Linked DNA regions of Homo sapiens: region 2 is linked to region 1. Evidence: fine-mapped expression QTL. A gene starts in region 1. The other region holds a variant in brackets. All regions are shown on one strand. Distances are between the middles of the regions. Region 1 holds the start of COLGALT2 (collagen beta(1-O)galactosyltransferase 2). Region 2 overlaps COLGALT2 (collagen beta(1-O)galactosyltransferase 2).

Region 1 (2,913 bases):
GACCAAGTATTTAGCTTGAGAGAAAGGAGTTGATAGAGATCAGTTGAAGATTCAGTAGAGAGTGGAATGATAGAGAAAAATCATGGGCTAGAAAGGGAGACCTCTCCCTTTCTAGTCTGTGATCAAAGACCCTGTCGTGAGGAGGCACCTGCAAGTAAGAAAGGTCTTGGTAGGGATGCTAGTTGGAGACAGTGGTGTTGGGGGAGCTGGATGAAGGAGGTGATATACTTCAAAAGACAGTAGGGAAGACTTCTAATAGTTGCTGAGAAGGATTGATAACAACTAATAAAAAGACTATGGGACAGACCTGAGGGTGAGTTGGGATTGGAGATCATGAATGTGCACTGGCACCAAAACACCCTCCATACTTATCTATCAAAGGCTACACAATATATCTTCAAAACTAAATATCCAGCCGAGCATGGTGGCTGATGCCTGTAATCGTAACACTTTGGGAGGCCGAGTTGGGCAGATCACTTGAGCCCAGGAGTTCCAGACCAGCCTGGGCAAAATGGTGAAAACCCGTCTCTACAAAAAAAAAAAAAAAAAAAAAAATTAGCTAGGCGTGGTGATGGACACCTGTGGTCCCAGCTACTCGGGAGGCTGAGGTGGGAGGATTGCTTGAGCCCAGGAGGTCGAGGCTGCAGTGAATTGTGATCGTGCCTCTGCACTCCAGCCCCGGCAACAGAGTGAGGCCCTGTCTCAAAAAAAAAAAAAAAAAAAAAGTAAATCTCCTTTAGCAGTGTATGCCAGCAGTTTCATTTTATGTGCTAATTGTGTTCTTCCTTCACCCCTTCTTTTCTTCCTTATCTCTTCTCTGCTCTCCAACATGCGCGAATTTTCCCTCTTTGTTACTCTATCATATTGGCTTATTACGGAAAAAGAAAACCAGCTAAGTGAATTTATTCTTTCACAGCCCTCCTGTGAGGAGGCTTACTGGGTTCACAGTAGAGTGAGGCTTCAGGACAGTGTCTCCCAAGGGCTTTCTTTTATTTTGCGGGGTCTGATCTGGCTCCAAAATTCTCCAAGTCTTCAAACTTTGTGTTATTAGGTGTCTACTCAGTCAAGAATGAATTTCAGAAGTTGAGTATATAAGAAAATGCGACATGCTGCCTTTGCGGTGGTTAAACAAGTGTTTGTCATAATCGTGAATAGTTGGGGAGACTTTTCATTTTAGAACTCTACTCAGTCAATAGGTGCATTATGAAAACTGGATACATTGCATCACTGTGAAGGGCTTCAGTCTGCGGTTTGCAAAAGCAGAATAAATTTTCTTGGGGTTGTACCGTTATGTACACACACACACACACACACACACACACACACACACACTCACAGGCTCATTGGCAGACAGGGCCACAACTCGCGGCTCTAGGGAAGGCCACAGACCTCAGCTGTACGAGCGGAACCTGGACTAGAGGAACTTTCCTCAGGACTCAGGGCACACAGCCCCTCGGCCACTACTGTCTGCGAGCCCGAGGCGCAGGGGAGCGCCAGCGGCTGCAGGTACGCTGCGCACCCGCACTGGGGCCTGGGCGGTGCAGCGGCGGCGGGAGGGTCCTGGGAACCGCAGCCGCCGAGGCCAGTGTGTGAGCCGGCCGGCCGCGGCAAGCCGCATCCCCCGGCCGCCCCTCGCAGCCCCTTGCTCCCCGGCAGCCGCCGCCGCCCTCAGGCAGCCCAGCCGGGCGCTCGCGCCAGGACTTCCCCGCCGCCCGCCTCGGCCCGGAACATGGCTGCGCGCCCTGCTGCCACCCTCGCCTGGTCGCTACTGCTCCTCTCCTCAGCCCTGCTCCGCGAAGGCTGCCGAGCGCGCTTCGTCGCCGAGCGGGACTCGGAGGACGACGGAGAGGAGCCGGTGGTTTTCCCGGAGTCGCCCCTGCAGAGCCCCACGGTGCTCGTGGCGGTCCTCGCCCGCAACGCGGCGCACACGCTGCCGCACTTCCTCGGCTGCCTGGAGCGGCTGGACTACCCCAAGAGCAGGATGGCCATCTGGTGAGCGCGCACGGGCCCCGGGCCGCCGCGGCGGGACGCGGGGGCGGCCTGCCCAGCGCGGACAGCGCCCGGAGCAGCAGCTGCAGGGCGAGGGAGCCGCTGGAGGGGCGGGGGGGCACGCGGAAAATCTGGCGCACACACCCCCTCGCTGCCCGCGCCGGTGGCTGGCGGATCGGGCGGTCAGGCTGCGGAGGGACGCGCGGGTCAGTGTGCGCAGAGGGTGCTGATGGGGAGAACCGGACCGCTGGAGCTCTGGAGGGTAGCCTGCGAATTGGGGCTTTGTCCCACAAGGGGCATGGGGGACACCCCTCAAGGGGACTTTCAGTTCCCTCGCTTTTAACTCTCGAGGTTTCCTCTTTCCCCACCTCATACTGCTAGCCCTGACGTGAGGGGATAGGGTGCCTGTCGCCGTATTCCCATGTAGATACGACAGATGGAACGTAACTGCGGTTGGCCAGGGGCTCCGCAGTGGCTGGGGCGCCGCAGTGCGCTGCTCTGACTTTCCGGTGCCGGGCTCCTGCTCCAGGCTGGAAATGTGCTCCTAGCTCTCCTAGGGGGACCTGGACCTAGGGGTGGAGATTGGGCGGAGCCCGCGGAGTGTGCCCAACCATGGCACCACCGTGGGCCTGGTCTCCTGCGAGCGCTCCGGGCTGTCCCTGCCGGTGCATCGGGGTTCCACGTCCCGGGGAGAGACGAAGATGCCCTGGGAAAGATAAACAGCCAAGTTTTGTCCCCGGAGGAAAGAAGCTTGGACCTGGTCCCTGTGTCTGCTGCGGGGAGGGCCAGGGGATAAGTGCGGGTGCCTGCCCGCCCCACCTTGTAGAACTTGGTCGTCTCGCACCTTTTATAAACGCGAGGATCCGAGGGCGAGAAGTTAGTTGGTGGCCAGGTTAGCCGCTGAGTGGGTTGTGGAGGACAAGG
Region 2 (2,913 bases), 72 kb after region 1:
GCAGGTAGACACCCAAAGTTGTTTGGTGACTCATTTGGGAAGAGGAGATAGAAAAGGAAAGAGAGAGGATGAACTCCCAAGTGTTTCCTTCTGTTCCTGGCACGGTGTTAGTTGGGAGTTAAGATTTTTACATGTGAAAACACAACTAATAGTCATGAAGCAGTGAAAGCTAAGGGCCAGACTGGCGGTGCAGACCATGAACAGGGCAGGAGTCAAGGCAGGAAAGATTCACTGTCATTTTGGGGAAATGAAAGGTCTTTCTTGACAACTGTGGATTTTAAGGTAATATTGTACTTATCTCTAAGTATTTTCAAGAGAAACATGAATGAGCCTGGGAGTCATGTGCAGCCCAGGGCATGTCTCCAGGCTCTTCCTTCCTTAGTTTCAAAGCAAAGCACTTTCCTCTTTCTTCATGAAATATGATTGGTATTCTTTTGTTCTCACTCTTCTGAAGCTCCCTAGCTGTGTATCATCTATGTCCCAGGCAGGACCATCCAACCACAAACCTTGGTCCTAAATCTTTCACCCCAGACTCTAGCCATTGCCCCATGTGGGTGATGAGTGAGGAGCAATCCAAGTGTGCTGGTGAGCAGGGCTTGGCCACCCTTCTAGCCCAAGAAGAGAGCACATATGGTCATAGGCGCGTCTCTGTTCCTGTAATGAGTCCAGGGTCAAGAGTTCACCTCCCATTGTGGCCAGTGATCTGGGTTCTGTATCATGGCCACAGGAATCATCCCAGTGCCAGCCAGTCGTCTTCCAAATGTCTGATGTGAGTCAAAAGAGGTGAGTGATATGGGCAATGGGCAGACAGATCCTGAACACCACTGGTAGTGATCAAATTTGTCCCCTTGTGGAGGGATGGCAATCCCCTAGTGACTAATGGTCTTGGAACTGAGCTTCCAATTACTGACTGGGTAGAAAGCACTTGGCATTGGCTCTTTAGGGACAAAGATTTGGCACTAATGACTTACTATGTGACCTTGGACAAGTGACAGCCTGAATCTGATTTTTCATCACCAAAGATAGGGATAATTACATCAATCTGCAATGTTAAGGTACTATATGAGTACAAGAAAATGTTTAATATGTTTAAAAGAAAAACAGTCCTTCAAAATGTAGCGTAATTCACTTCTCTTTTTCAAAAGAAAAATTGTCTTCCCCAGAAGCAGCATTCACTGGGAGTGCAGACTCTTTCATAGACTTTATCTAATTATTAATACATTTTCTTTTAAATTTTCTGTTATCAAACTGCCCATGCACATGGTTGAAAGTATTCATATAGTTCCCCATGGTTTATTAAGAAATGAACAGTCCCCTGCACATCACCCTGCATCACTTCTGTCCTCCAGAAGGCAACCACTTTTATCTCTAATATTTACTTCCATGTTAAATAATATGCATGCATTGCTACTTCTTGATTTTCTGGCTTCACCGTGGGCATTATTTGTTGACTCTCCACTATAGACTGTGAGGAGTTAGCTCTTTTTCTTCCTTTTTGCCCTCTGCATGCAAACACATTCTTCTCATCACCCTGTTCTCCCATTGTAATTTCAAACAGATTGATGGTCAGTGTTCTTGTTGTAATCATGCAAGCCTAACTCCAAGCTTGGTCATTCATAGGCTATGATTAGTTTTCCTTTGCCATT[C/AATTTTC]TTTGGAGGCAATTCCTTTAATAATTGCCTTTTTTGCTTAGTTTTATTATTACTAGTATGATCCAAAACTAATCACTAATTACCTCAAACTCCTCTCAGAATGTCCAGATTTGTCAGATGTCCTTTTTTGCATATTTGCGAAGACGTCTGTTCTGGAGCTTTCTAATATATTCTAATCCAAGTGGTGCTGAAGCTATCAACCTAAGACTTATTTCTCTTCTCTTATACACTGACTCTCCTGTTCATGTTGTTTATAATCTTTCTTGTTGGTTATAATCGTCCTCCTCTTCTTCCTCCTCCTCCTCTTCCTTCCTTTCCTCCTCGTCCTTCTCTCACATCATCCAGCAGCTTTCTGAGAAAGTATGATGGCAAGTAAATATATTATGGTCTTGCATGTCTAAAAATGCCTTCCTTGTACCCTCACACTTGATGGATAATTTGGATAGGTATCATATCATTTTTTTATGGAAGCCTCAGAAAGTTAAATGGTAAAATGGTTTGCCTAATTAGGGTAGAGATGCAACTTTAATATATTTTTCCTTCCACTTCCTGAATTCATCATGACTTTACAAGAAGGTGCACTTTGAAGCTCCCCAGAAGCATTCATATGGGCAAACAGCAGAGCTAATGAGTTTGCTCGGTGAAGGCAAGAGAAGGGACAGTGCTTGGTAGACCAGCCTTGATTCAAGCCAGATTCAGTAAAAGCAGGGAATAAAGGTTATTTTCTTTTCTCCTTCCTCTCTGTTAATGCCATGAGACAGCTTCACCTGATTTGACAGATGATGTAGCTGACTGGAGGAAATTTCATCTGCACAAAATAGAGGAGTCCCTATGCAGATAATTATCTCTCTGGAAAACACTGACAATTATCGCAATTAACAAATCACAGGCTTGGATACATGGACCAGAGGCTTGGATACATGGCGGACTCATCCTTTTCACTAAGCAGTCTTATCATTGATCAGGAGTGTCAATTGCTGACCAATGATGTGTATGAGACCATCCTGATTCCTATATTTCTAGCTGTCTGGTTAAACACAGATGCCTTATAACTCTGCAAGTTATCAGGTGGGGCTATGAAGAACAATTTGAATATGAGAAGGGTATTGCATACTTCTGGTATTGTCACACTACAGGTTCTTAACAGGACATTCTGAAATGCAGACTCTTTTGTCTCTATATGAACTGATTTTGGAAGTTTCATGTCTGTTGGTTGGCTCCAAATCCATGCCTGCTAAGGGAAGCAATAAAACCAGGGAGAATCTTG

The links. PIP is the estimated chance that this variant, and not a neighbour inherited with it, causes the effect.
Region 2: its variant is the best candidate, but not a certain one, in a credible set for the expression of COLGALT2 in T cells (TOPMed, PIP 0.74).

The regions. Positions count from the first base shown.
Region 1 is chr1:184,036,174-184,039,086 of GRCh38, reverse strand. It overlaps COLGALT2 (collagen beta(1-O)galactosyltransferase 2), which reads left to right and starts at 1,359. Exons shown (of 12, transcript NM_015101.4): 1 at 1,359-1,992. The coding sequence starts at 1,730. RefSeq lists a silencer at 1,547-1,636.
Region 2 is chr1:183,964,524-183,967,436 of GRCh38, reverse strand. The region is part of intron 5 of COLGALT2 (collagen beta(1-O)galactosyltransferase 2); the gene reads left to right. Among named protein-coding and RNA genes, the nearest start is that of COLGALT2, 72 kb to the left of the region's middle. The variant C/AATTTTC (reference allele first, on the strand shown) is at 1,647.